Linked DNA regions of Homo sapiens: region 1 is linked to region 2. Evidence: fine-mapped expression QTL. A gene starts in region 2. The other region holds a variant in brackets. All regions are shown on one strand. Distances are between the middles of the regions.

Region 1 (12,571 bases), 190 kb before region 2:
ACACTCACTGGAGGCAAGCTACTTCTTGTGCCTCAGTTTCCTCTTACATAAAATGGACGTAAAGATTGAACCACTTCACTGGGTCACCGTAAGGATTAAGCGACTTAGTATACACCATGCCCTTAGAACGGCATCCAGACTAGGCGAGCTCTAATGGGTATTTGGGATGATGATGATGATGTGGAGGAGGAGAAGGTGGAGGAGGAGAAGTTGGAAGAAGAAAAATTAAATGACTCAAAAGCTGAACAGCAGACTGGATGGCACCCTCGTCAGGAAACTGCGACCACCGACAGGAACTAAAACTTTAAATCCAAACCCTGGGGAGCTGGAACAAGGCTTTCATTCTGGGGCAAAGTAGCTAAATGTTTAGGCCTGCCCATCGGTTCTGACCACAAATGCTGCGATTCTTCCTGCTTGCTGTGGCTCTAGGGGCGGCCACACTGCCCCTGAGGACACACTGTCTCCTTGTTCCCCTCAGCAATAAGTCCCAGCGTTCAGAACCCTCGTTAAACACACTTCAGATTAGGTTTCAGAGTCCCCGACTCCAGGCTGTGAAGAGAATGGGCCCTTTCAGCTCCCTCACTATAATGGAGCAACGACACAACCACGGCGTCATTAGTACACAACTCCCTCCTTCTTTCATTCCAAAACTCTGCAAAGATAGATTTTGTGTGTGTGTGTGTGTGTGTGTGTGTGTGTGTGTGTGTGTGTACATGTGGGGGATTTCTACTGCTTTCTTGCAAACCTGGTATGAAGCAAGCAACAGAAACAAAAACATTTAGGGGAGAATCCAGCTCTTCATAGTGCTAGGTTTGTCATCTCCTGATCTTGAGTAATTCATTATCTTTTCACCCTTTTAGAAGTAGATGAATAAAAAATTCTAAAATTTATCTAAATTAAAAAATCATCTTGACAGCTTGATACTTTAATATCTATTAGGCAGAGAATAAAATATCACACAAAAACTGAACAAGGCAAGTATAAACCAGATGACGACTGCTTGTAGAAAGTAGGACACCACTTCCAGCAAGAGCAAAAGATGTGTCTTTTTCCTCATGTCTAGTAAGATTGGCACTTTTCTCCTTGGGCTCAGTGGTCTAATGAAGTCATGAAAGTGCATTCAGCCCACTGAACCTGAATCTTTAGAAAACACACCTGGTATCATATACTAATACTTGGCTTCCAAAACTATTATTCCAAAGGAAGGCGGAAAGTAGAAATTGTGTTGAACTTAGTCCCGTGACTCAGCAGAAAGGTGAAGACTTTGTAAAACAAAGCCACCAATGACACCTGTGGTTCCCATTGTCATCTTCCATCATATGCAGGCGAAGTTCTTCAACCTTGTCTCTGAAGCACAGCTTTTCCCCAAGAACCGATCTTAACGTGAATGAAAAATTATTCTGTTTACAGACACTTTCTACAGAAACTACTTTTTTAACATTTTTTTCAAATAGTCAGTTGGGAGAATGGGAAGATTTTCTTACCCCTTAGAAGGAGACTTTAATGTTTTTATGCAAAAGGCTTTTAAACTGAAAATCCATGCATCAAACTGAAGTATGAAAACACAGCTTTCCGGATCCTTTAAGAATTCTTAGCTCTTTAGTTTCCAGAAAACTTCCCAAACATTTTTACTTTTCATTCTTTTTTTAAAATGTACTTTTCAGGTTTAATATTCTGTTAACCACGGGAGTGAGTGGGGGTGGGGGTGAGCTTCAGCTCCAGCTTTGTGTTCTGCAAAGAGGTCAGAGTTCTAACCAGATACTTGGTATTTATTCTCCTTTGAAAAGCTGGAAAGCTCAGATTAATATGGAAAAGAACTTTACAAACAGGTATATAACAAAAGTACAATCATATCCAACAGACACAGAAAGGAGAATGGTGGTTGTAGGGCTGGGGGTGGAGGAAGGGGAGAGGGGAGTGGGGAGTTAGTGTTTAATGGGGACAGAGTTTCAGTTTGGGAAGATGAAAAAGTTCTGGAGACATGGGGATGGCTGAGCAACAACATAAACATACTTAATACCACTGAACTGTACACTTAGAATGGTTAAAATGGTAAAGTTATGTTACGTATATTTTACCACAATTAAAAAATGGGGAAAAAAGCATATCCGAAAATACTGACAATCTACAAAATGGACTGGTAAACTGGGTGGGTGTGGGGAGGGTAGAAAAAGTCAAGCACTATAAAAAGTATTTTCATTATAAAGATGGAAGGAAAACTAACTTTGATGTCATTTTCAACAGATGAAGCTATTACTATTAGGCGCAAAACTGTGGGAGATATTTGGGAACAGCATAGAATAGGGGAAGGCAGGGGTTCTAGGCTCATCACGTCAACACTTTGAAGCTGGCTTGCCACTTACTAGCTGTGGGGCTCAGGCAGGTCTCCTGGCCTGCCTGGACACTGGCTTTCCCATCTGAACAATGGAATGATGACGTCCGATAAAGGAGTGGTTGTGAGAGTTAAATGAAGGAAATATACATAAAGTGCTAAGCACCAGTGCCATCATCCAGCAGGGATTCAAGAAGTCAGTTACCCACCTTGCTTCATTTTTAGTTGAAATATGTTGTGTTATTTTCAACGTTTGGTAGCTATGAAAATTCCACCTTCAGTATTTTTAAACCTCACCGTACTTTAATCACTATAAAATAAAACTTAAACTTCCCCTCATATTTCACTATCTTCTGATGAGCAGCTGGGGAATGAGACACTGACTAGAAGAGGAAAAAGGTGGGAAATGGGGTCTCTATGATCCACAAATGAGGAAACGACTAAGAAACAAAAAATGATATGGGTTCACTACGGATGGCAGTCTCTTCCCACTGAAAGCTTGCTAGAGTAGGACAAAATACGAACACATAGATTCTCGATTTAGGAAAAAGAAACTTACAAATAAGCATATAACAAAAGTATACATAAAGCATATCCAACAATGCTGACAGTCTAGAAGGACTAAAAGATTATGAATTACTAAGCACATTTTTTAAAAATATGAGTATCAGACAACCAGTTTCCTTAGGTGTTAATAAACCACAGTTCTGGGAAATAAGATGCTTCTGCTTTGTTTACAACACAGATTCTGTAAGCTCCGTCAAATGCAATAGAAAGGGATGCTGATCGATGGCCAGGATTTAATTAAAGAACTAATTCCAACTGATGATAGCAGTGATTCCAAGGGCACTCTGGAAATGAGGCTTGCCTGAAAACTTCTAAGCACTCATGTCCTCTGGCCCCAAACCTAGAGAGCCTCACATGCCTAAATGTTCCTGCAATGACTCTACTGCACATACACACTCATACATCTGTGGACACTCATGACACTCAGGAACTGGGATACCACGCAGCTTAATGACATTCTTTACCTTCTGTGAGTACCTTAATTTTTTTTTTTTGAGATGGAGTCTCACTCTGTTGCCCAAGCTGGAGTGCAGTGGCGTGATCTTGGCGCACTGCAACCTCCGCCTCCCAGGTTCAAGTGATTCTCCTGCCTCAGCCTCTCGAGTAGCTGGGATTACAGGCGCCTGCCACCACGCCCAGCTAATTTTTGTATTCTTAGTAGAGACGGGGTTTCACCATGTTGGTCAGGCTGGTCTCGAACTCCTGACTTCAGGTGATCCACCTGCCTCGGCCTCCCAAAGTGCTGGGAGTGAGCCACCATGCCCGGTAGATGAAATATTTTTTCTGACAATTTCCTTGAATTTCTCTGCCTGCATTTAACCTCTGTCACTTATGATTACTATCTGACTTATCACATAAACAATTTCCAAATAGCTTCTCAAGTCAGCTTTATCAGAAACAATCATCTTCTACTTTAAATCAGACATGTCACTCCCCTACTCAAAATGTTTTTCACTCAGAGTAAAGGCCACAGTCCTCACAATGGAAAAAAGGGTCCCCAGTGATCTGCCCCACCCCTGTCACCTACCTGAGCTCATATCCAAATGTCCTCCCTCTGGCTCACTCCTCTCCAGCCAGGCCAGCTGTTCTCTAGCACACGAGGCACACACCCACCTCCAGGCCTTTGCACAGGCTGGAACACTCTGTCCCCAGAAATCTTTGTGGCTAATTCCCTCACCTCTTTCTTCGCTTTGCTCACGTCAGGCTTTCAAAAGTGCCGACCCTGACTACCCTATTCAAAATTACAATTTGCCCCACACCTCCATCCCTGATTCTGCTCTATTTCTTTTTATTTTTCACTTTTACATACCACTTTCTACACACAAAAGACAACATCTTCTTCTAACGCTCCTTACACACTGCCGTCTTTCTCTGCTGGAAGGCACACTCCCTCAGGATATGGATCTTGTTTTGTTCACGAGAACAGCATGATGCATAGTAGATGCTCATAAAGATTTGCTGAATGAATAAAATAATTTTAAAACCATAATTCCCATGGAGAGACCATAATAATACAGTCTTTAACAAAAACAACTATAAGCTGGGGTCAAGAGTCTAAAGCCAACTAGGGAAAATATATATATATTTGAGACAGAGTCTTGCTCTGTTGCCCAGGATGGAGTGCAGTGGTACCATCTCGGCTCACTGCAACCTCTGCCTCCCAGGTCCAAGTGATTCTCCTGTCTCAACCTCCCAAGTAGCTGGGATTACAGGTGCACGCCAGCACGGTCGGCTAATTTTTGTATTTTTAGTAGAGATGGGGTTTCGCCATGTTGATCAGGCTGGTCTTGAACTCCTGACCTCAAGTGATCCATCCGCCTTGGCCTCCCAAAGTGCTGGGATTACAGGCGTGAGCCACCACACCTGGCCAAGAATATATTTTTTTATTTCAAGAAATTGTTGCTCAAAGAGATGCTGTCTGCAAAAAGCCATAAATGCTGACCATTAACAAAAGGCCAACTATATGAAAAAAGCTTAAAAGAAACAGAGAAAATAGAAGATGACATTCTTTCGATAGGGAAACATGTTAACTTCTACAACAATGCACAACAAAACTAGTCATGTGACGGTCACACAGGAAAAGAAA[T/C]ACCTAGGCGAAGTTTAAACTTGCAGAATGAACGTGTCACATCACAAGCTGTGATAGGCAGCGCAGCGTTTCTACAATACCCCGCAGGCGGCTTTTAAGAAAAAATTAAATATATGACTCCATCGATGTGTTGAGTTTTTCCAGATTCAGTGCTCTTGGAGTACAGGAGGCCCCTCCCTTATCGTCAGTCTTGCTTTCTCTGGTTTCAGTTACCCTTCGTCAATTTTAAATAGAAAATTTTAAATGGAAAATTTCAGAAATAATCCCTAAGTTTTGAATTTCCCGCTGTTCTGAGTAGTGAGGAAATCTCTCGCCGTCCTCTCTGTCCCACCCTGGACATAACTTCTCCCTTTACCCAGCAGATCCAGGCTGTCCGTGCTCAAGGGCCACCTCGGTGAGCAGATCAGCTTTCGAGATAAGCAGTGCTTGTGTTCAAGTCTCCCTGAATTTACTTCCTAATGGTCCCAAACAGTAGTGATGCTGGCAACTGGGGTATGTCAAAGCGAAGCCTTAGAGTGCTTCTTTTAAGTGAAAAGGCCAAAGGTTCTTGACTTAATGAGGAAAGAAAAAGAGTCATGTGCTGAGGTTGCTAAGATCTGCAGTAAGAATAATCTTCCGTCTGGGAAACTGTGAAGAAGGAAAAAGAAATTAATAATACTTTCGCCATCGCACCTCAAGCTGCAGAAGTTACAGCCACAGTGTGTGATAAGTGCTTAGTTAAGATGGAAAGGGCTTTATACTTGTTGAAGGCATGAACAAGAAGAAAGAAAAATAAAATCCTAAGGCTCTCAACCCACAGAACAGACCCTCCTCTTGGCCAAGGGGACCCCAGAGTAACCTTAAAGCTGGGTCTGTGGCTGTGAGGGGATGGGAGGTCTGATGAGCCTGGTTACACCCCCATCCTTGCTTGCTAAAGGCCACAGGCTTTCTTCCCTAAGGGCTGAACAAAAGCCAGTTCTTTCCAAAGATTCCACCTAGGACTTAACCAACAGACTGACACCACCCCTCCCTTTTGTGATGTCAATGAAACAACAAACCAGCATTCCACCAGCCTGTGGGGGCTGTGCAGTGAGGGCCTGCGTGTCCTCAGCTTCAGCTTAACACATTAGAGTCCAGAAAACTCTGCCCTTGGATCATGCTAACACTGCCATGTTTTGAACATGGGACCGTGAATCTCAATCGCGTGCGCATGGTTCTCGTTTCATGAATATTCATGACTCCCCCATAGCTTATTGAATATGCCTATTACCCACCCCATTCAGCATAAATTGTTGTCTTATTCTTCCCCTCTGAAGTGTCTGTTTCTGGCTTCTGACCAGAAGCTATGCTTCCTAGCCTGTCAGAATGCCCGCTTTGCAGGCTGCGACCCTTTATGAGAAACAAAAAGCTCCTTTCCAAATTTACAAACTGTCTCATCCTTCAGCTGACAACAGAAACGTGTCCAGAGTGACAGCAATCAGGTCTGGTACTATCCATGGCTTCAGGCATCCACTGGGGTCTTGGAATGTATCCCCCATGGACAAGAGGGAAAGACTTTATCAGAAACTTCAGTTCCCTTTAAACTGGCTCACCAGTTAACTTTGTTGCTCTCAATGTGATTGTTTTAAAATCTGGCCAAGAGAAGGAAGCCTGAGATTTAGCACATTCCATTGTTAACTCACACTGGTTTTGAGTTTTTTGCTCAGTTTAAGTCCCTTGTTATGAAGCCTTATCTTAAAGTAAACCATCCTAACAAGCACCGTTTTAATGATAATTCCCTTTTATGTAGGTATCATCACTGCAAAAGTTAGCTGTTTGAAAATTGAAGGCAAATGTAAGATATATACTAAGAAACATGGGTTTCGATGACACATTTTAAAAAAAATCCTGTGAAATTATAAACTAAATTTAGTGACATGGGCAGCCTACAGTGACCTAATACCAGCACTGACATAAAAGCCGTATTGGAAAACAGAGAGAGGTTTCTGAAAAAGCAATGCAAGCAATAAGAGCCATCTTTAAAAACAAATATTTTTTAATACTTCTATGATTTGACAGCATTCGAAATGTGAATCTACAGTGGTGACCTACAGCAAAGAATTTACACAAATGAAAATGGAGTGTGTCTCCTTCCATAGAGAGTTAAGGTTATTCAGAGCGACAGTATTCTACCAATTGCGTGTACTCATTAAATGCATTTGGCCCACATTTATAAACAATAACATGAGTGCTCAAAACAAATCAAATTAAAATACCAAAGGACAATAAGCACATTTTTAAAACAGATCTGTCATCTGTCAAAAATTATACATGCCCTAAAAGAAGATGAGTTCAGAGGTTTGCCTAGGAATTGGACAGTTGAGACTCAATTCTAGCTGACACAGGCAGCAAAATGATCTAGTTTTAAAAGCTTAGATCTGCCTTCACCATCTAACTCCTCAACTACGTGAGATGACTTTAACATATTCTAAAGAATTATGCCAACAGAAAAGTTTATTGGAGCTGCATATCCTAGTGGGCACGTACCAGGTACTCTATTTTATAAAAACCACTGTGAAAATTACATATTGTTCTCTCCTCCTGAAAGGCATGATTAGTCCCAATTGTAGTGAATCAGGAGAGGAGATGCAGGAACCAGCACGTGTGGAAAAGAAATCAGGCAACAGATTCGCAGAAACAGAAAACAAAATGGTGCTTACCAGGGGCCAAGGGAGGGGGAAATGGGAAGTTGTTGAGTGGGAATAGGGTTTCAGATTGCAGGATGAAAAAGTTCTGGACCTCTGTTTCACAGCAATGTGAAAATACGAAAAGCTACTGAACTGTATGCTTAAAAACGATGAAGGTGGTAAATTTTATGTAGGTGGGTTTTTTTAACTAAAACAAGAAAAGAAAGCATTAAGGCTAAATCTCCAAGTCTGAGCCTGTGAAAAAGAATGTTTCCAGAACGATATTATAGGCCAGGCTGGTTTATTAATTGCTTGGAAGACAAACACAAAAGCAGAAACAAAACACTATAGACAGGCAACACACCTGCAACTGATTGTCCTTTTGCATATGTTTATTCATTACCAAGCAGACGAAGCCATTTGTGTCTTTATGTTTGATTTTCATTCATTTTTCAAAGCAGTCAGCTATTGAGGGATTGCCCAATAGAAAAATTTCAGAAGCATTTATTATATCATTAACAGCTCCATTTTCACTCAATGTCCCTCTAAGCCTGTCAGGGAGACCTATGAAGAGAAGCTATAAAACAAGCTTTGTTTTCTCTGCTAAAATGCCCTGTGGCTGTTGCGGAGTCTTGGGAACACAGTGCGGCTTTCAGGCCCTGGTTGTTTCAGGTTTTGTTTTGTTTTAAACAAGAGATATAACTCTCACCAGCATGCTGCATTTTACCAAATCCTCAGCCACAAAGACTTTCTTATGACAACTCCATGCAGATCAAACTGGACAAGCTACAAATATTATGACAAATATTCTTGAGGAAACCTGAGTATGTGTTGGAGAAGTATGTGCCTCTCTGATTTCTCAATGCCTTCTGTCACGGCTGTGTAATCTAGAATTTAGGAACCTGATTCTGGGTTCCAGTACAAGGTAGATTAGCAAGACAGGGAAGATCAGCATTTCTCCTGGATTTCAGTTTGTAACTCTCAACCCAGACATTACCATTGGTTCACCAGTGAAGAACTGGAACAGTGCTGGTGAGATGGTTTACTCCTTAAATCATCAGCCTAACCTAAATTTAATCAGCAAGCTGGGGCGTCAGGTGGGAGCCTTCACTTTCAGCAGTGTCGTACAGATGATAGAGTACCAGAAACAGAACATATGAGATAGAGAGCCGTGACAAAGACAAAAAAAGAAAAGGAAAACACAACAGTTTTATTAACCAAGTTAGTAATCACTTGAGTGTAAAGATGAATCCAATAATGTAAAAAATAGAAGCACTGTTTTCAATACTCATGGAAAGATAGGCTGTTGAAACATAGAAACAAAATAATTTCTTCTATTCCAACATCAAATGCATAAACCATATTTTTCAGGGTTTATTTCCACAAGTCTTCCTTACGGACTACTTACCAGTCAGTCTGGGAAGTCTTCATTATTATCCCATAGTTCATGACAGAGTGTTCTGAAGTGCTTCTACAGTATCTATTTCACATTCTCTATCCAATTTGGCCAAGAAATTTCAACTACTGTGTTAAGGCCTCAAAAAACAGAGCATTAAGGCATGGCCAACAAACAGAATCCCTCAATGCCCACCATAAATAATAGTTCGGAAGGCAGCCATGGGCCATGAAGGCCAATAGGTCAGAAGCCATAGGTCAGAAGGTCTTCGCTGTGTGGCTCAAGTCAGAAATGCAGCAGCCAAAGACCCCTGGAATGGGGGCTTCAGCTCATCAGGGCCTGATGCTTCCAAGAGTCTTTACTAGCACAAACGGGAAAGGGAAAAGGAGAGGAATTTGAAAAGAGAATGGTTGTGAAGGCAGAGGCTGCCAAGGACGCTCAGAAACACACACCAGGGGTAGGTGGTCAACACATTTTGATCACAGAAAATAGACCAGTGAGTACATCGCCTTTTTTTTCTGAAAATAGTAAACCATTTTTTTTCTTCTGAAGACATTAGAAAAAGAGCTAAGGGCATCCTTTCAAAAAGTAAACTCTTTCCAGAAAATATCAAATCATGATTCCAACACGCTCTTTAGACTGAACTGATGGATCATCAATTTCAGCTTCATAACAACTTGCAGACAGTTACGAATTAAATGTGAAAACACTGAATGCCAAGGTTACCCAATACAAAATAGATCTTACACAAAAAGCAGTGGGCGCAGCAGGAACCGTGTTTCGCTTTTCCATACTGCCAAAATACACAAGCTGGAGTAGACACGCCAAGATTTCCTCATGAAAATGAGGCTTCCTTCATGAAACACTGGGTGATAAAGGATGAGAGTAACTTGACCTTTGTTTTTCTTTCCAAGCCACAAATGAAAACACAAAGAAAATCAAGAGCCACCTGAAATTTAGAAAACATTTCACAGCCACCATTATACATAACTTCAATGTACGCATGAAATAAAGGACTATCTTAACTCTTTAATGAAACTTTACGAGGAAATTTTCCTAGTGCATTTAATATATTAATCAAGTAATAAAATCCTTCATGTGCAACTCCTCAGACATAGTTCAAGTTGTGATGAAACTCAAAATGTGTATTAGTTATAAATATAAAAATGACTAAATTCAATTCTGGTTCTTGAGTACTTAATTGCTCGGAAGTTAGCTTCCTCATATAGGCTTTAAAAAAATTGTTGACACTCAACAGGAAGACAAAATTATGGGGCTTGAATTCTGGAAAGGAAGAGACATTTTCCTCTAAAGGCTGAATAAAGTTAACTGCAAATAGTATGCAAGAATTGGAGATTTTTTTCTTATCAAGTAGCAAAATAAACTAGATATCTACTTTTTGTTTTTACAATCTGTCTTTCTGCTCTCCTTTAAAAGTAAAAAGTTAATGACCAGAGATGTGCCAATTAGAGAAACCTTAAAAGGTGGCCTTCAAGAATTTTCCTTTAAAATAGAAAAACTTGGAAGGAACAGAATACAAATAGATCAAAACAGGTATGTAATATTTTCATGTGTTAGGAGCAGGCTAAAAATATTTAACAGACATAAATTCAGTGTATTTATTATTGATCTTATAATAATAATGGAAGCCTCAAATGGAAAAAAAAAATACTTCTACTGTAAACAACCACATCTCCGAAGCCAGCAGGAAACTCATTAGAAAAAAAAAAAAAAGCCATGTGAATTTCTCATTACAGAGACCACTTGAACCATATTTTAAATAAAATCGAGTTGCCTTTCTGATTCCACTACCTGGGCACACCTGCTTAAATATATTAATGAAACTGTGGCAACAAATCTAAAATTTTATTATAAAATATGTGCATGACAACTGCTCCTAACTCACAACCAAAAAACCAACTCCCTTTTAAAAGTGTTAAAATAATATATTGATCATTTTAAGGATTGTAAGCAACAAATCCTTTCACCACGGATCATTAAACATGAGATAAATATCCCCATTTCTATAATGCATGTAATTTTAAGTAATGTTTAATGTTAGTAGCCACTATTACATCCTGCAATTGTGTAGTGCCAGCAACCATATATCTAATATTACTGTTTTTTCAAACATGAGCTTATTCACAACCATAAACTCTTCCTATTACGAATGCAAATATTTTCCTCCCTCTCCCATGACAAATAGCTATTCTGCCAAAAGGTCTGGAGAAACAAATTTCTAGGCAAATCATCTGTGTGTGGCTGACATGCATGTATGCGTGGTATATACGGTATGTGTGTGCCCGTGTTTTCAGTTGGTTGGGTTTCGGCTGCCTTTGTGCAAGATGGTTATTATAACCGTGAAATTTAAAATCTGAAATGCACAGTACCAGAAAGTCCTCGGCTGAGCTGTGATTCTTGGATAATTCCCGGGGAACAGCCTCTACTCAGTGCCTTCTTCCTATCACACAAGAGTTTTCCTTCTGTTTCCAATAAGGAGCATGTAAGCTCCGGGTCTTGGTCGCATGGCAGTCAGAACTGTACTCGGCTAAGGAGCACTGACGGCTAAGGAGCACTGACAAGTGAGAGGGATGATGGTGCAGCATGGTGGCTCTTGCAAGCAAGATGAACTGCAGTCCAAATCCCAGTGCTCCCAGAAGCATGTGGATTTGGGCTGGAGCTAGGCTGGTGTTCACCCTGGAAGTGGCATCATGTCACTAACAATCCTTCACATTGCCAGTATTTTTCCTGGAGTGCCTTTCAGGTGGTGCTGACTCTCTCCTAAGTCCTATGCCAGGCACATTTTTTTGTTTGTTTGTTTTTGAGACGGAGTTTCACTCTTGTCACCCAAGCTAGAGTGCAATGGTGCAATCTCCACTCACTGCAACCTCTGCCTCCCAGGTTCAAGTGATTCTCCTGTCTCAGCCTCCGGAGTAGCTGGGATTACAGGCACCTGCCACCATGACCCACTCATTTTTATATTTTTAGTAGAGACAGGGTTTCACCACATTGGCCAGGCTGGTCTCGAATTCCTGACCTCAGGTGATCCGCCAGCCTCGGCCTTCCAGAGTGCTGGGACTAAAGGCGTGAGCCACCGCTCCTGGCCCTGTGCTAGGTACTTTTCAATCAAACAATACCCATTTTAACCCTCACAGAAACCCCACCAGGAAGTACTGGAGGAAGAAACTGAAGAGCAGGGAAGGTTGATAACTGCCCCAGCTATTACGTGGCAGATCTAAGATTTCAACTCAAGTTTGCTCAAATCCAAAGCCCAGGCTGGAAGGTGGTGACATCAAATTCTCTCAGATGATTAATATTATCAAACATTTTTCTATTCCATAAAATTTCCAAATAACAATGCTCAAAGAGCTATGGTTTTCTTTTAATGACTAAGTAGCTAAAATACAAAAGTCATATGAGGCCAAGAGGCTTCCCTTAACTGATTTCACAGAAGAAGCACCCGTTTAGCACGCACAGGTAATTTGTCACAGAGCCTTCTGTCTCTGCCTCCATATTAAAGTGTTTCTTTTCTGCAATGGCATCAG
Region 2 (12,571 bases):
TAGCTGGGATTACAGTCACGCGCCACCACGCCTGGCTAATTTTGTATTTTTAGTAGAGACGGGGTTTCTCCATGTTGGTCAGGCTGGTCTTGAACTCCTGACCTCAGATGATTCGCCCGCCTTGGCCTCCCTAAGTGCTGGGGTTACAGGCGTGAGCCACCGCACCTTATTGTCTTTTTTTTTGAAAAGGAACCTCTGTCTTTTTACAATCTGACTTAGCTTTAAGGATTCAATTGCTAAATTAGAATGAAATGAAAACAAAATCAAATATCAAACTGCCAGAACTGCAATCTATCAATTCTAATAACAAGTTTCCTTTAAAAACCCTAAAGACTAATTTGAAGGGATGGTAAAAACTGGATTTATTATTCATTCAACAAGGATTTACCAGACTGGGCAACATAGCGGTGAGACTCTCTAAGAAAAATTTTTTTAAAGAAAAAATTAGCTGGGCGTGATGGCATGTGTCTGTAGTCACAGCTACTCGGGAGACTGAGATGAAAGGATTGCTTGAGCCCAAGAGGTCAAGGCTGCAATGAGCCATGATCACCACTGCACTCCAGCCTCGAGTTTTTTTCAAAAAGAAAACAGAACACAATAATTTACCAAGGGTTTGCTATATTCAGATACTATACTAGATCCTGAATGAACAAGAACAAAAACTGAAAGTCATCATAATACTGGATTTTTAAGTCTTCTAATTGATAATAAATTTATGCAAAGCATTTCGTCAAAAGTCTGCACATAAAGTGAAGTTACTCTTGTGGTCAGAGGTTATTATCATAATTGAGAGTTAAAGGCAGTCTAGTGTGGCCTGAGGCTCTTCTTTTTTTTAATGTGTGAACAAATATGACAGTTTTACATATGAAATTCATTCAGTGTAAATGATGAATTCCCACATTAATTGCAAGTCTTGAAGTTCATAATTTCCATCCCACATTAAACTAAGAAAACTTAAAATCTGAGTTAACAGTTTGCAGGCAGCACTGAGCATGCCTCAGTTTCAGTCTCGCCGGATTAGTATCAAAAGCTTCGAGCATGATATTTTAGTAATGTATCCATTATCCACTTTTGCTCAAAGTATCCACTTGGCCAAACATTTTTAACTAATTCAAACCAGGGCAAGGGCATCCTATAAAAAGTTTTGCCAGTTTTAAATACACGTTTTCTGGGGGCTTCTTGATTGAAAACAAAGGCTGCATTTGGCAGAACAGGACTGGAGAAATCAGTATTTCAAGTAATTTGAATGAAAACCGTTTGGCTCTGATCTTCCTGGCCATGTGGAAGTGGTTAAGGAGGTAACAGCCTACCTAAGTTGCCATGGGTGAAACAGAGAGAAAGGACTGTGACCCAGTACCACCACAGAATAAACTCTGACACTAAAAGACAAGAAAAGAAGTTGATCCGCTGCTTCCCATTCAATAGCCAGGCTTGGAGAGGCTCCTTTCAATCAAAAGCACCAAACAACAGGAGAGAGACTGCCACGAGAGCCTAAAACCCCACAGCCTCCCTTCCCAGGCAAACGGTAACCAATACAGGGAATGCCTGTCCTTCCAAAGTAGAAAGACTTTAGCACCTGCATTACAGGACTATACCTGCCCCTCTTATCTGTAGCACCTTCAGCTGGTGAGGAAAGTGCATTTCTCAAAAACACTAAGCAGTTATCTGCAATAAGCAAGGCCAGTTACAAAGGGCTTCTTTAAAATGTCCAGTCCACCATGCTATCAAAACATCAGGCAAGGCCAGGCTCTGTGACTCACGCCTGTAATCCCAGCACTTTGAGAGGCCGAAGCGGGCAAATCACCTGAGGTCAGGAGTTCAAGACCAGCCTGACCAACATGGAGAAACCCCGTCTCTACTAAAAACAGAAAATTAGTTGGGCATGGCGGCAAATGCCTGTAATCCCAGCTACTGGGGAGGCTGAGGCAGGAGAATCGCTTGAACCTGGGAGGCAGAGGTTTCAGTGAGCCGAGATTGCGCCATTGCACTCCAGCCTGGGAAACAAGAGCAAAACTCCATCTCAAAAAAAAAAATCAGGCAAGTACAGTACTTACAAATCCACAGAATTTCTCTTATCCTCTGGGAAAATCACAATGCCATTTTTCCTAAGCATATTCTGCCTGCAGAAACCAGCCTTTTATCCTTTCTCTAGTATTCTCTAATCCCGTCCAGGATGAAAAGAGTTGTTTTTTTCTGATGTTTATCACAAGCATCCTCCTCATAAATATATACAATTTTCCAAATGAATTAAGCTCTTAGGTGTTCAATAAATTAAATGAGTATAAGCTTCACTGTTTAAAAAAAACTAACCCTTTCAATGCTATCTTATTTGTATCTTTAACCAAAAAACAAAACAAAACAATTTCCTTGGGCAGTTCCTTTTTTCTCTTTTTTTTTTTTTTTTTTGAGACAGAGTCTCACTCTGTTGCCCAGGCTGGAGTGCAGTGGCCCAATCTCAACTCACTACAACCTCCGCCTCCTGGGTTCAGGCGATTCTCCTGGCTTAGCCTCTGAGCAGCTGGGATTACAGGCACCTGCTACCACCCCTGGCTAATTTTTGTATTTTTAGTAGAGACAGGGTTTCACCATATTAGCCAGGCTGGGAAATCCTGATCTCAAGTGATCCGCCTCGGTCTCCCAAAGTGCTGGGATTACAGGTGTGAGCCACCATGCCCAGCCCCCTTGGACAGTTTCTTTAACGAAAAGTGAAACAAAAACGTTCCTCCAGGTTCCTTGTAAACTCTGGATAATTCTGAGGTGAATGCAATAACCCAGTAAGAAACTTGTCCAGGATAATTATTTTAAGATCTTCTTTGATAAGTCTGGCTACAGAGTAAAGTTAACATTCTATTATGAAGCAAGGAATAAATCCATCCCTGTATCAATTAAAGGAAGAGAATATCAATGTGAAAGGGGGCATTAGAAACCACGCTTCAAAAGGATTCCCACAGTGACAGAACTTCTCAATGAAACACCACACCCCAAGTAACGGGGGCGGGGTGGTGCACCATAGAATCTGCCCCTAGGAGGCACAGCCACCTCCACACCGAGGGTTTCCAGTTTCCCATTCACATAAAAGAAACAAGTAAGAGATTCTGGGAGGCGCTGGGCTAGGAAGGCATCTACTCACTGTCTCCACCAACAATTCCCTCAGTAAAGCAGCCATTGCCCAATAATGCTTCTATTTATTTTACCCAGAAGCAGATCTATTAGCCAGACATTCTAAAAACACAAACGCTTCGTTGTGCTTGGAGTAACTCCAATATTGATGCCTTGCTGCAGAACGATGCTGCAGGAATATAAAGTGAGCCATGTGCTAGCTGTACCCACTTATGAAGCACACTGTCAGAAACTGTCACATCCTGGAGACCAACCCATCCGAAAGACTGAGAATAAACCCCCTACGAGAACACTGTGGAAGGAGGGAGAAAGCCAAAGATAGGATGAAGCAGGGCCCTCCTAAAGTCTCCGGAACAACGAAGCCAATTTTTAAGGCAACTCTCCCTAAAGCTTTCAGGACCAGAAAGATGTTTCTTTCTCCTCTCCTTGTTCAGACTGAATAAGAAAAGCAAGACAATGCTGGAGGATGTTCTGAAATGGGCTCCGCAAGTCACCACGTGCAAAGCACATTAAACAGAAGCCAGTGCTAGGCCAGGGTTTGGCTCTGAAGATGTTGCCTACTGGAAGGAGAGGGGCCCCCGGGGGTTTCCACGCAGAGACCAGGGCTGGGCGGTCAAACCTGGTAAACTGACAAGGAGAAGAGCCTTAACAACAATATAATGAAACGGCCAGAGGCCACCGGTACTCCCCAGGGCTGGGAGAGACAGGGAGGCCGAGGCTGCTAAACTGTTCCAGATGACAAGCAGGCTCTCCCACGTCTCCACGAACTGATCAGATACCAGGGCCTCGCTTCTTTGTGAGCCTCAGCTCCCTCCTTTCTGGGGAACCCTACTCGATCCCCAACAGCCGCTGGCCTCCAGCTGCCACAAACGAGATCCAGACTCATTACAGGGAATTCGTATTTCCCCCCCTCAAATAAAACACACACACACACACACACACACAGAGTCTCCGGGGTCCAGCCGGATCACACAGCTAAAGTTTCCGGAACTTGAATCGTAAAACCACAATCAGAAGTTGTTTGGAAATACTCGCCGCAAAGCAATCTGTCCTTTGCTTTAAAAAATAAAAAATAAAAAAAACTTTGCCCTGCATAAAGGCAGACAGTAAAGAGAGACACAAATCTAACTTGGGCAGAGGGTGTGTTCCTCTTTGTCACCCGCCGGGAACCCTCGCGCCGCGCGTGGGCGAGCGGCGGGCACCCGGCGGCATCCGCGCCAGCGGCCACCTCCCCGGCCCGCAACCGGCCTCAGGGGCCGAGATTGCGGCCCGAGGTCCGGAAGCGGCGTCCAGCGCTGTCAGCGGGCGGGTAGGACGGAAGGAAACGGGGGAAGGGCGCCGGGGTCGGGGGAGGCGAGCGGGGACCGGCGCGGAGCCCCGCAGCCCGACGTCGGCGGAGGTGAGGGGAGAGGGGCGCAGGGGGCAGCCCGGAGCCCCGAGGCCCCCGAGCTCCTGCGATGGTGGCCGGGGCTGCCCGGGCCCGACCCGCCGCCCGACTGCGCAGGGCAGGACCTCGGGGACCACGCGCCCACCTTCGCCCGCAGCCGCGGCCGTGCGCTGCGGGAGCCTGGACTCGCACAAGTTGCCGCCCGCGGCCCGGACCCCGCCGGCCCCCGCCCTCCCGCCGCGGTCATTGTTCACCGCGCGCCTCCTACCTCCACAGCGCCGGCGGCTGCGGCGGCTCCCTCTCCCGGCTCGGGCTCCGGGATCGGCGGCTCCCAAGCCCCCGGCGGCCGAGGGCGCGGCGGCGCCGGCTATTAATACCCGCGGGCGGCGGCGGCGCGGGCGCGCGAGCAGGGCTGGCGGTGGCCGGCTGAGGTCCGAGCCATCAAAGGTGGCGCGGGGCGGAGGGGAGGGCGGAGCAGGCGGGGTGGGTGGGGAGCGGGCTCCGGGTCGCCATGGCCGCCTCGACGCCGGGGCCAGCGCTACTCGCGCAGGGAGGAGCGGCGCAAAGCGGGCAGCGGCCGCGTCCCCGCCCCGCGCCCCAGCCGAGCGCCCGCACCGCTGCGCCCGCGCCGGACCCGCCGCCTCTGAGGCCGGCGAGCGGGAAGTGCAGTGGCCACCGCCCCTCCCCGGGTCTGGGCCGGCCCCTCGGCGGGGGGAGGCGGGCGCCGCGCAGCCCGAGCAGCGGGGACGCGGGAGAGCCACAGCCCCCTCCAGCGTCCGGGCCCGCGCCCTGCGCCCGCCCCGCCCCGCTCCGCTCCGCCCGGGCAGGTGCGCCCAGGGGCCTCCCGAGCCCAGCGCGCCGCCGGGGATCTGCGCCTCTCTTGGGCTTCCGGCCAGGGCCGGGCTCCGCGCGGCGCTACCTAATGCAGCGCGGGGAGCGCCACTGGCGAGACGCGAATCCAGCAGCTGTGGCGAAAAACGAACCGGGGAGAGCGGGAGACGTGTGCACGGCGAAGCCGGGAGCGGCAGGCGGGCGGTCAGGGGCTCGGACTCTGCAGGTCGCTTTTTGAGGTCCTGCCTGGGGCTGCTTCGCCTGCGACGTCGCGCGGGGAGGACAGTCTTCAGGGACCCACCGAGCCCTCCCCTCCCCCGGAGCCACAGGCACGGGCTTCCGGCACCACCCCGGGCTGCGCGGGACTTAAGCTTGGGGGAGCGGCGGCCACCCCGCGCCCGCCCACGTCCTGGCCCAGCGCCCTCCGCCCGAGCGAATCCCATGACAGTTCCCGCCCGCCCAGCCTCGGGGGACAGTGCCCTTGGGGAATGGCGTGGGGGAGGTTAGGAGTGGCTTGCGGTGCTTGAGAGCCTTCGGGGTTTCGGGAACTCTACGGAGCGGGGAGCAAGATTCAGGACCCAGGAGGCAGCGATCTAGGGGCACAGTCACCGTCCCCACCCAGCAGCTGCCGCGTTACCTTCTCTTCCCCCTTCTGAGCCTCCAGTCCCTCTCTCTAAGCGTGGCGGGAAGAGGCCTAGGGCGCAGCAAGTGACGTTCTGCCAGACCCGGGGCTAGCGGATTCCGGCCTTCGGAGGCCACTGGCTCAGAACCGTGGGCCTTTTGCGTCTTACAGGAGTTCCCTGACCTCAGACCGAGAGGGCAGATTTCACGGGAGAGGCCTCAAGTGAACTCACAGCTGGACAGGAGCTGGGCAGAAGTGGAGTGTAGGGACCCTGATAGAAGGGCGGGTTGAGACAAGAACAGGGGTCTTGGAAGTAGGGGGTGCTTGTGGGCAGCTCCTGGGGAGGAGCAGAGATGTAATACTTGCAGATTTGGTGGTCTGTGGTTGAAGAGAAGAAATGGTGGGTTTGAGGCTTTGCTCTGTCAGCCCAACCAGCTGTGTGTCACAGATCAGATTTTTTTCTGCTCGTGATTCTCTAAGTGTGGTTCTCAGACCACGACCACCACCAGCAGCCCCTGGAAACGTCAAGAAATGAACATTCTTGGGCCGCATCCCCGACCTACCTAATGAAACCTTAGCAAGCATCTGAATCGCCTGCAGGGATAAAGGACTGTCAGGCTCCATCCCCAGAGCTGCCGATTCAGTAGGTTTGGGGTGGGGCCTGAGAGTTTGCATTTCTAACAAATTCCCAGATAGTGATGTTGCTCTGGTCCTGGGATCACACTTGGAGGATCACAGTGTTAGGACAGTGGGTCTCAAACTCATGGAATCATCTGCGATTAAAAAACAACACCCTGGTTGCACCCCAGCCAAATATATAAAGATTCTAACCCAGGCATCAGTAAAGTTCCGCAGGTGATTCCAGTGTGTAGCCAGGTTTGAGAACAGTTGCTGTAGGCGGCTTTTTAAACTCTAGTGTATACCTGAATCACCAGGGAATCTTGTTGGAATGCAGATTCTGATTCAGTAAGTCTGAGACTGTTTCTAACAAGCTCTCAGGTGTTACTTGCTGGTCCAAGGACTACACGTAGTAGCAAAGTGCTATGTCATACCTCCCAACTAAAAGGAAAAAATTAGGCCGGGCGCGGTGGCTCACTCCTGTAATCCCAATACTTTGGGAGGCTGAGGCAGGTGGATCACCTGAGGTCAGGAACTTGTAAACCAGCCTGGCCAGCATGGGGAAACCTCGTCTCTACTGAAAATACAAAAATTAGCTGGGCGTGGTGGTGCGCGCCTGCAATCCCAGCTACTCGGGAGGCTGAGGCATGAGAATTGCTTGAACCCGGGAGGCAGAGGTTGCAGTGAGCCGAGATCGTGCCATTGCACTCCAGCCTGGGCAACAAAGTGAGACTCCATCTCAAAAAAAAAATCATAAAAATAATAAAAGCAAAAAATCATAGAAAGCGCAGAAAATTAGAAAAGTGACATTTTCCCAGTCACTCTCTTTGCAAGACCGACATTTTCTACATGTTACAGCATTTCTTTCATAGTCTTTGTATGTCTAGAATTAGATTTAGTTGTGATCTTAAAACTATTTATGATCATAACACATAATATATTGATCATATTAATCAATATGATAATACATAATATCCCATGTTGCCTTATCTCAACATTATCAACATTTGTGAAGGTGACTTTTAAAGGAGCCGTTCTGAGGTTTGCAGGCTGAGGGCAGGAGCCCATGGGGAGAGAGTTAATGGGGGAAAAGAGAGGGGAGAAGGGGCAGTTCTGGGAATCTAGTTAGAGAGGCTGTAAAGCGGTGGGGTCACACTAGAGAACTTCCTACGTTTCCTCCCAGCTCTCACCAACATTCCGCGGTTGGTACCTAACCTGATAGAAAGTACTGTTTCTTTTAAGAGAGGGTCTTGGCTGGGCGCTGTGGCTCAAGCCTGTAATCCCAGCACTTTGGGAGGCCAAGGCAGGCAGATCACGAGGTCAGGAGATCAAGACCATCCTGGCTAACACGGTGAAACCCCGTCTCTACTAAAAATACAAAAAATTAGCCAGGCATGGTGGCCGGCGCCTGTAGTCCTATCTACTTGGGAGGCTGAGGCAGGAGAATGGCGTGAACCCGGGAGGCAGAGCGTGCAGTGAGCCGAGACCACACCACTGCATTCCAACCCGGGCGACAGAGCGAGACTCCGTCTCAAGAAAGAAAAAAAAAGGAGTCTCGCTCTGTTGCCCAGGCTGGAGTGCAGTGGCACAAACATAGCTCACTGCAGCCTCGAACTCCTAGGCTCAAGTGATCCCCCTGCCTTGGCCTTCCAAAGTTCTGGGATTACAGGCATAAGGCCATCGTGCCTGGCCAGAAAGCACTTTTTAAATTCCTCTCCCTGAAAAGCCAGGGGTACCTGGCCTCGAAAATCCTGAACCTGGAAAATCAACTTCTGAAAAACTTAGGCGTTTCCTTGTCATTGTGTGTCATTTATGCTTAACTTTCAGAATATAAAAATGTATAATCCCCCTAGATCCCCCTTTTATCCCAAGCTGTGGCATGGGTTATTTAGAAATCTTTCTGGATTAAGGAATCACCCTGTGCTTAACAATTCCTCTTATTAATTTTAACTGTTTTACTGTAAAACGTGTGTACATGTCAAGATAAAATTAAGCAGTATAGAAGAGTATGAAGTGAAACCTAGAAGGAACCCTTCCTGCATCCCTAATCTCGCTTCTTAGAAATAATTTTCCCAACAGTTTTTACAGTCTTTCAGGAATTTTCTGCTCATATACAAAAGTGTGTGGGGGCAAGCAAATCTTTCATATTAAGAGATCACACGTCACAGTGAAACACAACTTTTTATTCCATAGTTCCCTCCCCTTCAACACATCACCTTTCGGAGAACCTGGGTTTAGGGTGATGATGCTCTCTGGACGTGACAGTATGCACTGACAGTAACTGAGGCAGCCTGTATTAAAACCCAAGGCGGAAAGAGATCTGCTTGTAGCATTTGTGGTGGGCTCATTCTGTGTAATCCCCCTGCCTTGAGTGTGACCTAGTGACTCGCTGCTAATGGATAGAATACAGAAAAGGAAGGCAGTGTCACTTCTGTGATTAGGTCACAGAGCACTGTAACTTTTTTTTTTTTTAGACGGAGTCTCACTCTGTCGTCCAGGCTGGAGTGCAGTGGTGCAATCTCGGCTCACTGCAACCTCTGCCTCCTGGATTTAAGCAATTCTCTGCCTCAGCCTCCTGAGTAGCTGGGATTACAGGCGCGTGCCACCACACCCGGCTAATTTTTGTATTTTTAGTAGAGACGGGGTTTCACCATCTTGGCCAGGCTGGTCTTGAACTCCTGACCTCGTGATCCACCCGCCTCAGCCTCCCAAAGTGCTGGGATTACAGGCGTGAGCCACCGCGCCAGGCCCATAACTTCTTACTGATACGGTCTTGCCCTCTCATTTGCTCACTTTGATGAAGCCAGCTGCCATGTTGTAAGATGTCCTATGGAGGACCCACAGTGGCAAGGAACAGAGGGAAGCCTTACTCCAACAGCCCTGGAGGCACTGAATTCTGCCAACAACCATGTGATACACAAGTCCTTTCCAGCTGAGACTTGAAGTGATGTCAGTGTCATGAGGAACCCAAAGCCAGAGGACCCAACTAAGCAATTTCTAGAGTCTTAACCCATAGGAAGTATGAGATGATAAGTGTTCTTCTAAGCCACATTTTGGAATAACCTGTTTTGCAGCAATAGATAACACAGCATAATGTGGTAGGAGGAAGAATATTAGGATGAGCAGTTTCAAAGTCGTGTCAACAGGAAGAATATGAATCTCCTTGTGTAGCTGGTGGGAAATCTTGGGATTTTGAGCTCAGTTTCAGCAGCCCTTAATGGAACCAGCAGAAACTGAGCTACAGAGAAAGCAACTGACATGAAGTAGACATCTGAGGTTGGAGAACTTATGAGGTATTAGTTGGGATCTGGAGGTAAGACCTTATTCTTCTGCAAAGAATCAAGACCTTGGAGGGGAAGGGGCAGCACTGGTGGTGACAGAAGCCAGATGGAGAACAGCTTAAGGAGAGAGTGGGGGAGGTAGAGGATAGGATTCCGGGGACTATCTGTGTGGGATGCCTTTGGTTCAAAAGATAGTTGCATATTAAAATTTGGTAGATATTGCAAAATTGTACTTCAAAGACACTGCAAAAATTTATTCTTCCACTGTAGAGATTTTAAAACATGGCCACAAATTATCGTACACTCCTCCCACTGAGAGTTCAGATCTATGTCTATGCCCTTTGAATCTAGACAGGCTCATAACTGTTACGGTCAATAGAATACAGTGGACGTGATGTGACTTTCATAGCTAGGTCAGAATAAGCCATGCTGCTTTTAACTTGTTCTTTGCATACACTTGTTCTTGGAGATCTGAGTGGCCATGTAAGAAGTCCCAACAATCCTGAGACTGTCATACTCAAGAGGCTCATTTGGAGATGTTCCAGTTGACAGTCCCAGATGAGCTGGTCTTTCAATCATCCCATCCCTCGTGTCAGAACGTGAGTGAAGAAGCCACCTCAGAATGAGTTCTCCAGCTCCCACTGTCCCTGTTCCCAGCCATCCCAACCACCCCAGACTTTTGGGTCATACCACCTAAGGACACCATGGACAGAGAAGAACCCTGTGTTCTTTCCAAATTCCCAATCCCATAAACTGGTAATTTCATGCCATTAAGCTTTGCATGACTTACTATGGAACAATAAATGAACCCACTAACCATGCTTGAGAATGATCATTCTTTAGCCCACTTTGGATATTGGCAAACTTAATATTTGTCAGTCTTTTTTTTTTTTTTTTTTTTTTTTGAGATGGAGTCTCACTCTGTCACCCAGGCTGGAGTGCAGTGGTGCGATGTAGGCTCACTGCAATATCTGCCTCCTCGGTTCAAGCGATTCTCCTGCCTCAGCCTCCCAAATAGATGGGATTACACGCATGCACCACCACACCCAGCCAATTTTTTTATTTTTAGTAGAAACAGGGTTTCATCATGTTGGCCAGGATGGTCTCAATCTCCTGACCTCGTGATCTGCCCACCTCGGCCTCCCAAAGTGCTGGGATTACAGGCGTGAGCTACCGCTCCCAGGCATATTTGTCAGTCTTACAGGCAAAAACAAAATCTCATTATTTTAAAAATTATTCATTGGCATTTATCCATTAACTGCCCTTCATGTGCTTTGCTCATTTTGCCATTGAGTTATCTTTTTTTGTTAACTCTTAATATGTTTTATATGTTAAGGAAATTAGCCCTTTGCTATCATGTAATGAATATTTTTTACGTTTTTTAATATGGTACTCTTTTTCACAACAAGTTCTTAATTTTTATGTTGTCAGATTTGTCAGTGTTTACTTTTATGCTTTCACATTTTTGTGTCATGCTTGGAAATGTCTTCTCTATGCAAGATGTTTTAAAAAATCATCATGTTTCTATACTTTAATGGTTTTATTTTTATATTTTATCATTGATCTATATCTTATTTTGGCATAAGAAATGACACATGCCTCCAACATCTTTTTTCCAAATGGCTGAGCAGATACGATTTGAAAACCCATCTTACTTTCATCTTCCATACCTGTTTAAAATGCCAACTTTGTCCTACCTTAGGATCCGCTTTTCTATGAATATTCTTTTCTACTTATCTGCCTATCCCTGTGCCAGTTACCAAAATGTTTGTGTTTATGGCTTCATAATGTATTTTACTATCTGATACTGCTTGGACCCCATAATTATTGTTAATTTCAAAAGTTTTCCCAGCTAGTCTTACATGTTTGTTTTTCCACATGAATTTTGGTATCATTTTGTTAAGCTCTGAAAATAATCATATTACAATTTTGATTAGAATTGCTGACATTTTGGGCCAGGCATGGTGGCTCAATTGCTTGAACCCGGGAGGCAGAGGTTGCAGTGAGCCGAGATCACGCCACTACATTGCAGCCTGGATGACAGAGCCAGACTCTGTCTCAAAAAAAAAAAAAGAGTGCTGACATTTTGACCTTCAACTTCAACTTTTTGGACTTGTATTATTATTTCCATTTTACAAAGGAGAAACTGAGACACAGAGAGGCTAAGTAATTTACTCAAGGTCACACACAGTACACAGCCAAGAAAGAGATTCAGACTCAGTCAAGCTTCAGAGGCCACCCTCTTAGCCATGATCCTGTGTTGTGCCTCCATATTCAAAAATCTAGGACAACTGGAGAAAGCATTCAAAATGCACTTTTTTAGGATAGAAAATAGGATAGGATAAAAAGTGAAGACTTCAGGTCATTTATTTTTCACTTCACTTTCAAAAGGAGAACTTCAGAAGGGAAGCAAAAGAAGGTCATAGACTGAAATCATTTTCAGTCTGGCCTACGATCTTGCCCTTTGATTCTCATCTCAGAGAAAGAAATGATACATAAAGGGAAGGTATGTCATTGTTGATGACTACCTGAAGTATTTTTGTTGTCCAGAAATGCATTGAGTACCACACACCCAATAAGAAAGCTAAAATTTGGCTGGGCTCAGTGGCTTACACCTGAAATCCCAGCACTTTGGGAAGCCAAGGTGGGTGGATCACCTGAGGTCAGAAGTTTGAGACCAGCCTGGCCAACATGGTGAAACCCCATCTCTAC

Alleles and levels. Alleles are on the strand shown, and positions count from the first base shown. SD is a standard deviation of normalised expression in the study named.
With allele T in place of C in region 1, the expression in testis of the gene that starts at base 5,174 in region 2 is higher (small effect, 0.30 SD a copy in GTEx).

The links. PIP is the estimated chance that this variant, and not a neighbour inherited with it, causes the effect.
Region 1: its variant is fine-mapped to the expression of FARP1 in testis (GTEx, PIP above 0.99).

The regions. Positions count from the first base shown.
Region 1 is chr13:98,321,577-98,334,147 of GRCh38, reverse strand. All of the region lies in intron 2 of FARP1 (FERM, ARH/RhoGEF and pleckstrin domain protein 1), which reads right to left. It overlaps LOC105370327 (a long non-coding RNA gene), which reads right to left and starts at 5,942. Exons shown (of 3, transcript XR_931667.3): 1 at 5,824-5,942; 2 at 5,341-5,612; 3 at 910-1,377. The variant T/C (reference allele first, on the strand shown) is at 4,986.
Region 2 is chr13:98,135,697-98,148,267 of GRCh38, reverse strand. FARP1 (FERM, ARH/RhoGEF and pleckstrin domain protein 1) reads right to left here and starts at 5,174. Exons shown (of 27, transcript NM_005766.4): 1 at 4,776-5,174. LOC105370328 (a long non-coding RNA gene) reads left to right here and starts at 4,358. Exons shown (of 3, transcript XR_931670.4): 1 at 4,358-4,429. RefSeq lists silencers at 5,124-5,433, 5,674-5,723.